2 separate regions of the Homo sapiens genome follow, and region 1 is linked to region 2. The links come from fine-mapping of genetic effects on gene expression. Tissue or cell type: whole blood. Region 2 holds a variant in brackets; the other region holds the start of a gene. All regions are shown on one strand. Distances are between the middles of the regions.

What was found. PIP is the estimated chance that this variant, and not a neighbour inherited with it, causes the effect. A credible set is the group of variants that fine-mapping cannot tell apart.
Region 1: TSGA10IP starts here. The variant in region 2 is the best candidate, but not a certain one, in a credible set for the expression of TSGA10IP in whole blood (INTERVAL, PIP 0.82).

What each region holds. Positions count from the first base shown.
Region 1 is chr11:65,944,167-65,946,666 of GRCh38, reverse strand. It overlaps TSGA10IP (testis specific 10 interacting protein), which reads right to left and starts at 1,187. Exons shown (of 8, transcript NM_152762.3): 1 at 845-1,187. The coding sequence starts at 991. It overlaps LOC105369350 (a long non-coding RNA gene), which reads left to right and starts at 1,143. Exons shown (of 3, transcript XR_950212.3): 1 at 1,143-1,230.
Region 2 is chr11:65,984,771-65,987,613 of GRCh38, reverse strand. No RefSeq gene overlaps it. Among named protein-coding and RNA genes, the nearest start is that of EIF1AD, 16 kb to the left of the region's middle. The variant G/A (reference allele first, on the strand shown) is at 1,345.

The DNA.
Region 1 (2,500 bases), 41 kb after region 2:
GGCCAGGAGTTCGAGACCAGCCTGGCCAACATGGCGAAACCCCATCTGTACTAAAAATACAAAAAAAATTAGCCGAGTGTGGTGGCCTGCGCCTGTAATCCTAGCTACTTGGGAGGCTGAGGCAGGACAATCGCTTGAACCTAGGAGTTGGAGGCTGCAGTGAGCCGAGATTGTGTCATTGCACTCCAGCCTGGGCAACAAGAGTGAAACTCCATCTCAAAAAAACAAACAAACAAAAAAACCCGACCGAGCACCACCTCCGTTCTGCATATTAAAATAGCAACAGCTGCCACCTGCTGAGCACCTATTGTGTGCTCAGGACTTTCATGCATAAACACACGTAACCTTCCCAAGGACCCTAGGAGGCCGGTACTCACTATCACCTCCATCATGTGGAGGAGAAAGCTGAGGCTCAGAGAGGCTGAGTAACTGAGGTCACACAGCTGGGAAGTGGTGGAGCCCAGATTTGTCACCATTGCGCTAGGCCACCTCTGGGCCCTGGACTGCACTCCCAAATGTCCCACTGGGCCCTGGACCTGCTACAGCCAAGGCAGAAACCAAGGTGGTCTTCATCAAGGTGGTCTTCATCTTTCCTGAAACCTGCTCCTTCCGCAGTGTTCCCTGAATGGCCCCATCATCCCTGGGAGTCACTCCTGGGCGTCATCCCTCGGCTTCTCCCAAGGCCCTTAGGCCTCCCTGTGGTCCCTGTCCCACTCCTGCCTCCCTGAGTTTCATCTGGACCTCAGCTCAGGTCTTGTGGCTTCTCAAGGGCCTCCCCAGCCCAGGCCTCCCTGACCCACCTGGCTCTAGGCAGCTGGAAGTGTCCTCACTGGGCCTCCCTCACCTGCTTGTCCTGAGAGACGGTCGACAGCAGCTTGAGCAGCCCCGTTCTGGTTCCTGGAGCCTGGAGCCGCACGTCCTGCCCTGGTCGCACCGACGGGGTCCTAACCAACTGTTGGTAGGTATTTAGCATATCGGTGTCCTGCCCCATCCTGCCCCATCCCCCATCCGCACCGTAGAACTGCCTAACAGGCCATCTCTATGGCAACCAGTCCTCAGCCAGTCTCAATGGGTCTGGCAAAAAGCATGCTAGGAAGGGGTCAGTGGGGTATGTGAGGCCAATCTCCTTCTGGGAGAGAGTTCAGCAGGATGCCCAGGAGTCATTTAGCGCAGAGACCCAGGCCCAAGTCCTGCCTCTGCCTCATCCACAGGCTCCCCGTGTGACCTGGTGTAAGTCCCCTGTCCCTACTCTGCCTGTGTTTCCCCATCCATCTGTACAGGGGAGTCAGCCTGTCTCCTGTGCTGCCCCCCGGCCTGGCCGAGTCCCTGAAGGAGCCAAACTGAACTTTCACAAGATTTTATTTAAATCCTTGCACTCCCAGGCTGGGAGTGGTGGCTCACACCTGTAATCCCAGCACTTTGGGGGGCTGAGGCAGGTGGATCACTGGAGGTCAAGAGTTCAAGACCAGCCTGGCCAAAATGGCAAAACCCCATCTCTACCAAAAATGCAAAAAAGATTAGCCAGGCCTGGTGGCGCATGCCTGTAATCCCAGCTACTCAGGCTGAGGCACGAGAATCACTTGAACCCGGGAGGCAGAGGCTGCATCGACCCCAGATTGCACCACTGCACTCCAGCCAGGGCGACAGAGTGAGACTCTGTCTCAATAAAAAAGAAACAAATAAACAAATCTTTGCACTCCCAGCCCCAGCCAGGAAGTTGAATGCTGTGTCCAGGAGAGAGGCAGCAGGCCATTCAGAGCCTGGGCCCAGGCCCACCTGGCCATCTTCATAGGCCATGAGGTTCTGGAGGGAGTTACAACATTGAAAGCTTACCCCAGGCCGGGCAGTGGCTGTAATTCCAGCACTTTGGGAGGCCGAGGTGGGCGGATTGCCTGAGGTCAGGAGTTGGAGACCAGCCTGGCCAACATGGTGAAACCCCATCTCCCACCTGGATTGAAACTCTATCTCTACTAAAAATACAAAAATTAGCCGGGCATGGTGGTGGGCACCTGTAATCCCAGCTACTCGGGAGGCTGAGGCTCTCCCTCTCCGGGTTCTCTTGAACCCGGGAGGTGGAGGTTGCAGTGAGCCGAGGCCACACCAGTGTACTCCAGCCTGGGCGAAAGAGTGAGACTCCATCTCAAAAAAATATATTTTTTTAATATAAAAAAAGTAAAAGATCTTACCCCAAACTTCTAGCAGTGCTCAAAAGCCTTGGAATCTTAAGTCCCCATGGGACGCCTGGTGCTGACCACTGAGGCTTGCAGTACAGGGATGTGGTGCTGAGCTGAGGCCCTGGAGACGGACCAACTGGGCTGGAGGCCTGGTCTCACTAGCTCTGTGACCAACTCCCCACTCTGCAAAACTGGAATCACGGGCCCAGCTCATAGGTTTGTTGCAAGGACTACATGAAACCCCAAACGATGACATCGGTAAATGTTATTATTACTAACACTAGCTGGCCGTTCTTTTGAGGCAGCAGAGCATCATGGCTAAGAGC
Region 2 (2,843 bases):
GAGCAGGTGGCGTGCTGTGTCTGTTGGGCAGGGGCGAGGTGGGGAGGACACTGGCAAGGCTCCTTAAGGCCGGGGGGTACGGGGCTCAGGGACTCGGAGAATCAGCATGCAATGACAGCATCGATGTGTCCGGGGCTCAGGGAGAGGGAAGTGGGACCCAGCCTGATCTGAGTGGAGACCCTGAGTGGGGCCAACTCCGTCTTCCCAGTGTGTTTGGGCTTTGGAGACATGCCCAAGGCAGGACAGCTTTGATTCTCACCACAGCCCTGGGGGCCACGACGGCTGTCTCCTCCCTACACCATGGTGAAGACATTCAGACCAACAGAATATAGGAGTTTATCACCAGCAGACAGAAGGAACTTCTAGAAAACAAACTTCAGAAACAATGAGAAGATTTGGCTATCAGTATTTTATTAATATCATAAAATATGTTAAGAGCGCTTACCATCTTTTTCTCTGATCTGGAGTAGTTTAAATAGCATTTGAATGATCTATTATCTAAAGGTAAAGCCTTTAGATAATAACCTTTTTTTTTTTTTTTTGACGGAGTCTCACTCTGTCACCCAGGCTGGAATACAATGGCACCATCTCAGTTCACTGTAGCCTCCGCCTCCCAGGCCCCAAGCAATTCTCCTGCCTCAGCCTCCTGAGTAACTAGGATTACAGGTACCTGCCACCATTCCCGGCTAATTTTTGTATTTTTAGTAGAGACAGGGTTTCGCCATGTTGGCCAGGCTGGTCTTGAACTCCTGACCTCAGGTGATCCGCCCACCTTGGCCTCCAAAAGTGCTGGGATTAAAGGTGTGAGCCATGGTGCCGGTCAATAAACTTTTGAAGCTTTAAAAACATCTAGGCTTGGTGCCTTTTTTGATGCGTCAAAAAATAACCGCAGCAAAGATTTACGTTGTTTTTAGTTTTGGAAGCTCTTTATTAGAAGGCACCGTAGTGGGAAGACAGCAAGTTACAGGCCTGGGAAATGAAGAACCTTACAGAAGAGAGGAAGGAGAAGGCAAAACCAGTGAGCTAGTTCCTTATGCCATATGTGAGTCACCATAGGAAGAGTTTATGAACTTTCACTCATTCTCATGCTGGCCTTTTTTTTTTTTTTTTTTTTCTTTTGGAGACGGAGTCTCGCTCTGTCGCCCAGGCTGGAGTGCAGTGGCGCGATCTCGGCTCACTGCAAGCTCCACCTCCCGGGTTCACGGCATTCTCCTGCCTCAGCCTCCCGAGTAGCTGGGACTACAGGCACCCGCCACCACACCCGGCTAATTTTTTGTAGTTTTAGTAGGGATGGGTTTTCACTGTGTTAGCCAGGATGGTCTCGATGTCCTGACCTCGGGATCC[G/A]CCCGCCTCAGCCTCCCAAAGTGCTGGGATTACAGGCGTGAGACATTGCGCCCAGCCATGCTGGCCATTTTTTATATTTATGTCATTATTTAAAACGATGCTTTTTTTTTTGACAGAGCCTCACTCAGTCACCCAGGCTGGAGTGCAATGGCACCATCTCGGCTCACTGCAACCTCCACCTCCCAGGTTAAAGTGATTCTTGTGCCTCAGCCTCCTGAGTAGCTGGGACTATTGGCACACACCACCATGCCCAGGTAATTTTTAAAATTTTTTTGTAGAGACAGGGTCTTGCTTTGTTACCCAGACTGCTCTAGAACTCCTGGCTTCAAGCAATCCTCCCACCTTGGCCTCCAAAAGTGTTGGAATTACAGGCATGAGTGACCGCACCCAGCCTTCTATACTGCTTCTAATAGAATAAAAGAATTTTTCCAGATTTTGTATTAAATGGAAGCAAACAGTATGTATAATTTCATGTCCATGAGGTTCATCCATGTTACTCATTCGGTTATATGAATGTCTACCCTTTGTTGATTTTTTTTTTAGAGACAGAGTCTCACTCTGTCACCCAGGCTGGGGTGCAGTGGCCATTCACAAGTGTGAGGATAGCTCACTGCAGCCTCAAATTCCCAGGCTCAAGCAATCCTTTGCCTCAGCCTCCCGGGTAGCTGGGACTACAGATACAGGCATGAGCCACCACACCCAGCTAAATTTAAAAAATATTTTTAGAGGTGGGTCTCACTATGTCACCAGGCTGGTCTTGAACTCCTGGCCTCAAGGGATCCTTAGCCTCCCCAGTAGCTGGGATTACAGGCACTAAGAACCATGCCCGGCTATTTATTCATTCTTCTGTTAATGGACATTTGGGTTGTTTCCAGTTTGGGGCTGTTATAAATAGTGCTGTTAAGAACATTCTTGTTCATGTCTTTAGCTGAACATATGTATGCTTTTCTGTTGCTAAGCCAACATGTTCTTGTTCTCTCTTTTTAAACAAAGTTCTATAATGGAAATTTTCAAACATACTCAAAAGTAGATAGAATGGAATAATGAATCCCATTGTACCTGTTACACAGCTTCAGTTTTCTTTTCTTTGTATTTTTTGGTTTTTTTCTGAGACAGGGTCTTGCTCTGTCGTCCAGCCTGGAGTGCAATGCATGATCCTAGAACACTGCAGTCTCCAACTCCTCCTGCCTCAACCTCCTGAGTAGCTGGGACTGCAGGTGCATGCCACCATGCCTGGCTGATTTTTAAATTTTTTGTAGAGATGGGGATCTCGCAATGTTGCCCAGGCTGGTCTCCAGCTCCTAGCCTCAAGCAATCCTCCTGCCTCGGCCTCCCAAAGTGCTGTGATTACATGCACGAGTCACCATGCCCAGCCAATATCATCATTATTATTACTAACAATAAGACTATTAAATGTGTTTAAGATTTCATTATGTTAATTTAAAAATTTTTAAATAGATATCCTACTAGGGATGTGAGGTCAAAATATTCTATCTTAA